Regions from separate parts of the Homo sapiens genome. Here region 1 is linked to region 2. Evidence: fine-mapped expression QTL. A gene starts in region 2. The other region holds a variant in brackets. All regions are shown on one strand. Distances are between the middles of the regions. Region 1 overlaps TMEM87B (transmembrane protein 87B). Region 2 holds the start of TMEM87B (transmembrane protein 87B).

The links.
Region 1: its variant is fine-mapped to the expression of TMEM87B in whole blood (TOPMed, PIP above 0.99).

The regions. Positions count from the first base shown.
Region 1 is chr2:112,115,913-112,118,820 of GRCh38, forward strand. It overlaps TMEM87B (transmembrane protein 87B), which reads left to right. Exons shown (of 19, transcript NM_032824.3): 19 at 172-2,908. The coding sequence ends at 231. Among named protein-coding and RNA genes, the nearest start is that of FBLN7, 21 kb to the right of the region's middle. The variant A/T (reference allele first, on the strand shown) is at 1,602.
Region 2 is chr2:112,053,852-112,056,759 of GRCh38, forward strand. It overlaps TMEM87B (transmembrane protein 87B), which reads left to right and starts at 1,418. Exons shown (of 19, transcript NM_032824.3): 1 at 1,418-1,905. The coding sequence starts at 1,741. RefSeq lists silencers at 410-459, 660-1,389 and enhancers at 2,120-2,189, 2,220-2,559.

The sequences.
Region 1 (2,908 bases), 62 kb after region 2:
GGCATGAGTCACTGTACTTGGCCTTTTATTTTCTGTATGTAATATTTCCATGTATATTATGGAATATATTTAGTTTCCCTAAATGTGGCTGTTGAAAGATTAGAAAATTTTTGTTAGGGTTCTGGAAGTAGTATCAACATGTTGATACATATCTTCTTTTTTTTTCTTCAGGAAATCATGACCAGATCTGAAATGGCTGAAAAAATGTTCTCTTCAGAAAAGATAATGTGATTGGAACCCGTATAAGAAATGTAGTTAAGCCTGAAGGACTATCCTTCATCAAGACTGAAAGTGAGCTTTGATTTGATATTGCCTAAAAATTTTTATTGTGTTATCTTGGAAGTCTGTGTATCAAAATGAAGAATTCAGATGGTAGGAGGTTCTATAGTCCTTTTAAAGCTGACTCTTGAGTGTCAGTTGAATATCCATTAAATTGGATTTGGAAATAACCTGAGGAAAGTATTATGATAAAGATCTGCACAGATGCCTCTTAGCTGATAGGTGGCAGGCCTGTGGGTTTGGGTTCTCCCTCTTTTCTCTGGAACATATGACAATTCCAGATTAAAGAAAAATGTTTTTTAATAAATACCCTTGGTCTTTCTTCTAGTCACCTTTGAGGTAGATATTGTGATTTTCTGGAGTATAGTATATCCGTGTCTCTGTGTCTTAGGTTTACTAGATGCAATAATACTTCTCTTTGACATTTGTACTGAAGTGATTTGATATTAAGTAAAACAGTTAATGTTTGAATATAGGCATATTTATAGGTTTTTTCCGCTCCCCCCCAACCCACCCTTTTTAAAAAATCTATACAAAGCCCTTGTTTGAGTCTCATCATGCACATCAAATCATGGAGTTAGGTCTTCTCTGAGCTCAGGGGAACACAAGTGCACAGAGAGAGATGTCTTGAGGGTCACTACCAAAGAATTACCCTCATTGTCCCTCACTCAGGCCATGTGTACATGCGATGCTGCTGAGTGTGCTGGGGTGGGTGGTGGCCACGTGGCTCCCCCAGAGCACTTCCTAACTGGCAAGCTGGGAGACCCATTACTGGTGAACTTTGTGGAAATTAGAACTGTATCTTTTACATAATCTTGGCATATTACATTTCATAATAAAAACATACATTTAGTTGCATGCTACATCACTATTGATTTTATAATTAATTTCTTAAGCTTCAACCATGTTTTATACCTTATTTCGTTACATCATATATTTGTAATGTGTAATATGAAATCTTTTGCTTTAATGTCTTTTTTTAAAATGTAGAATGTTCTAAACTTGAAAGGCAATTGAATGTAGTATGATGAAAATGTGAATGTTTTGCTGCTTTCATGACCAAAGATACAGGGCTAGTGGACATTTAGAATAATAATTAAAGCTAGAGTCTTGTATGTCTTTTCTTTGAAGGAGTTCTAACCTTGTAAATTGAGAATGACTTCAGAGAATTTTGATTAAGAAAACATTAAAATCTTAACCGGCACAAACACTCCAATTTTTTTCACTGTGAAGCCGCAAGCAATTTTTTTTCTTTTTCTTTCAAAAGCCTACCTTCTGAATTTATTTCTTGTTTACTCATTTCAGAGAGGGTAGTAAAGAAG[A/T]TCTATTTCTGGTAGTCATATCGCTTGAAAGGTATTGGTAAATGTGTTTTCAGTCGTGACCATGTGGAAAGTGAACAGTGTTGGCAAACATTACCGAGAAAATCATGCTTTTCAAGATGCCCTTGCTTTGGGATATCCTTCCTAGGGAGAAAAAAAAAAAGTAGTTTAACAATTGTGAATTCCATTTCTTATTTCAGTTTCTGCTGCAGTAATGGGTTCCCACCCACTATAATTCCCAGCATTTATGTTCTGTTGTATTCTCCCCTTAGCCCAGTAACATTTTTATCTAATACCCCATTCCCCAAGTTTTGAGACAGATTGACCCCCTACTCATTATGTGGCTCTAGTTGAATTTTAAAATGTGGAATATTGGGCTTGCAGGCAGTAGGAGCTGCAAATCTGGTAGAGTGGGAGTGTGGAGTTAATGGTGAGTATGTTAATAAAGGGAAACTGTCTCTGACAGAATCTCAGTAATGTTTACCAAAACATGTCTTTCTACAGCTGGTAGGATAAATGATGCTACCCTGTAGCTCAGCTACAGGCTGCAGTGCAAACTTTTCTTCCATCCAGAGAAAGCAGAATTCCCTCCTAGTAACCTCATTACAAATACTGTTACTAGAAGGGCATGTGCTGTCTGTCACCTTCAGTAATATTTGTGCCATCTCTTGATGACTGATGACCTGGATCGAGTATTTCTATGAAGGGTCTTCTTAGGCCCCTTACATACGCAAGAGGGGTGCTCTAGTGCCATAGCTGTAGTTCACAGGAAGGACACCAGGAGAAGTTATACCTAGGGCTACTGAGCAGCTCATCATCCCTGTTTCTGCACAGTTTCCTGAAACTGGCCATCAGGGCCTCTGAGGCACTCAAATCAGTTTACTTTTAGCATGCCCCCATCAGGGTGGGTCTCACTGTTAGTGAGGATACGGGTCTGGTTTGATGTTTTTCTAGGCAAAATGCTTAAGTGTTCTGGTTATGCCATTCATTCATACGATGTGTGAAATTTGCTTAAAAGGGAATTTTCATGATTTGATTTAGATTAGTATTTAAATATCTGCTTTAGATAGCAATTAATTTTATTGTAAAAATAAGGAAAAATATGTGAATATGTGAATTTTTTAAGCCTGAGAGATGATAGAATGTTCCCATATTTTTCTTGTAAAGAAAATAATATTTTAACTTACACATCCTGTAGAAAATACCACCTTTTCCCCTTGTATTACAGTACAATGTTTACATTACTATACTGTCAAGCTGAAAGTATAAAAAATGTACATATACATTTTGAGTTATGTATCCTTTTTTTA
Region 2 (2,908 bases):
AATGAACTAATTCTCTTTGACAGCAAAACATGTATTCAGCTTACAGCCGAAAATGCAAGGGAAGGTACACAATAAGACGGATCCAAGCCCTGACCCCTCTGAGCTTTAAGCCAGTCAAGTAACTACTTGTTCTGAAAAGTATTAACTGTCCTATTAACGTTAACCTTCACAACACAATGCCTTGTGTTCAACTGGCCTTGGCCTCAAAGCACTTTCCTGGCACATTCCCTGAATTTAAAGAACGGTTTCCATACAGCTGAGAGGGTCGAGGCAGGGGTAAGTGTAGAAGACGCAAGAAATGGAGACACCCTGGGAACAGAACTCTAGACTGCACTCCAACCGTAGCACTTACTAGGCATTCGACTCCAGGACCTTGACACTCGCGCTCGCTGGCGGCGAGCCCCGCCTCCCCACTGCGCCTCATCTCCCAGACAGGCCCCGCCTCCCCACTCAGGCCCCGCCTCCCCACTCAGGCCCGTCTCCTCACTCAGGCCACGCCTCCCCGCCCAGTCCCGTCTCCGTACTAGGGCTTGCTCCAAGCCCTGCTTCCTCGCCCAACCTGGCCTCCCCACTACGGCCTAACCCCAAGCCCTTCTCGTCCAGCCCCGTCTCCACACTACTGCCTGGTCCTCAACTCCGCCTCCCCACTCCGACCCCATCTCCCTGACCAGCCCCGCCTTTACGCTCAGGCTCCGCCTCCCCGCCGGGTCTTGCCTCCAAATCCCGGCCCCGCCTCCACGCGGCCCCGCCTCCACGCGGCCCCGCCTCCACGCTCGGCCTGGCCCCAAGCTCTTCCTTCCTGGGGCACTCTGTCTCCGCACTCCGGCCTGGTCCCGAGCCCCGCCCCGCCTCCACACGGCCCCGCCACCACACGGCCCCGCCTCCACGCGGCCCCGCCTCCACGCTCGGCCTGGCCCCAAGCTCTTCCTTCCTGGGGCACTCTGTCTCCGCACTCCGGCCTGGTCCCGAGCCCCGCCCCGCCTCCACACGGCCCCGCCTCCACACGGCCCCGCCTCCACACGGCCCCGCCTCCACACGGCCCCGCCTCCACACGGCCCCGCCTCCACACGGCCCCGCCTCCACACGGCCCCGCCTCCACACGGCCCCGCCTCCACACGGCCCCGCCTCCACACGGCCCCGCCTCCACGCTCGGCCTGGCCCCAAGCTCTTCCTTCCTGGGGCACCCTGCCTCCGCACTCCGCCCTGGTCCCGAGCCCCGCCCCGCCTCCACAGTCCCGAGCCCGCCTCCAACCCTGCCCTGTCCCCACACCCAGCTTGGCCCCGAGCCACGCCTCCCACCCCGCCCCCACACTCCCGAGCCCCGCCTCGTCTCCACACTCCGGCGGCGCCTCCCTACCCGGCCCCGCCTCCGCGCTCGGGCTGCCAGCCCTCCCTTGCACGTTCCGGCTCCTCTTCTATCTTCACGCCCACGCTAGGCCCTGAGCCCAGCCTCCACGTCTCGCCGCCAACTCCACATCCTGGCTCCTATCTCTGCCTTCCAGGCATCTCCCAGCTGCACGCTCGGGCCCGGCTCAGAGCCCTAAGCCCTGCCTCCCGGTCCTGGCCGGGTTTCCCAGAACTGCACGGCGCCTCTCCGCCCAGGCCCAAGCGCGAGCCCCTCCTCCACACCCGAGTCCGAGCCCCGCGTCCCGGATTCGGACCCGCCTGCCTGGGGCGGTGCTGCACCAGGTGCGGGTGTGGCAGGCGTCTCGGAGCGCCAGGTGCAGCTTCCTGGTCAAGATGGTCGCCGCCTGCCGCTCGGTAGCCGGGCTCCTGCCACGCCGCCGCCGCTGCTTTCCCGCCCGGGCCCCGCTGCTGCGCGTCGCCCTCTGCCTCCTGTGCTGGACCCCGGCGGCTGTGCGCGCGGTCCCTGAGCTCGGGCTCTGGTTAGAGACAGTCAACGACGTAAGTGGAGTGTCGGGACCCAGGCGTGGCACGTCTCGGGCCGTCAGGGCCGTCGTGCGGCTTCGCTTGACCCCGGGCTTGTTCACCCTGCCTCTGCCGGGTCAGCACCGGGTCCCCTGATACCCTCCCTGAGCCTTTTGTCTGTTACAGCCGGGGAGCGGGGAGCGGCCCCTCCTCCGGCCCGACCTGGGCTGCAGGCAAGAGCCGTCAGGATTGCGCATGGGACGGCCCTCGGGTCCGAGCGCTCGGACTGTTACTGAGGGTCACCATGCCCGACGCCGTGGCCCTCATTCTGCTCTGACATGTTTTGGCTGGATCAGGAATCTCTCGGCACATCTAGCAGCATCTTTGGGATTCGACTCTTCCTGTCCGGATGCAGCCACAGTGGGCCACACCCCTGAGGCCGCAGGGAGGACTTGCCAGCGCTTCAGTTTCTGCATAAACTTAGAAAGCGGGTCTGCCGCTTCCTTAAAAAAAAAAAAGAAAGAAAAAATTTAAATGAGGGGGAAACGTGCAGTAGTCACCCTACCTCTATTTCTCTCTTCTTGAGTTCCTGAATTTCTCTACAGTTCCTGTCACAGTTCCGGGAGAGAGAGTGTGTGTGTAGGTGGGGCGGGACTTGTGATTAGGGAGTGCTTGAAAGGCGAATCTGGAGGCATGAGTGGGTGGAAACTCTTCTTTCCAAGGCAGGCTATTAGAAAACTTGGCGTCTGGTAATTAGAGGAGATGATGTGGGAGAGATGCAGGGGCAGAATTATGGAAAGTCTTGCAAAAGAGAGACAGGAAGTCTGGAAGAGGCATTATCTCCGGCTTCTCTGGGGTCAGATGACTCATCCAGCACTGTTTGGGATGGGTATTTTCCACATGCATGAAATAATGTCCAGGTTCTAAAGATGAGACTTATATTTTGATTTCCTTAACCAGAAAAAGAAAGTAGTTCCAAAGACTACAAATACTTCCCACAACACAAAAGCTACTCAGAGGAACACGCTGGGTATCTTTC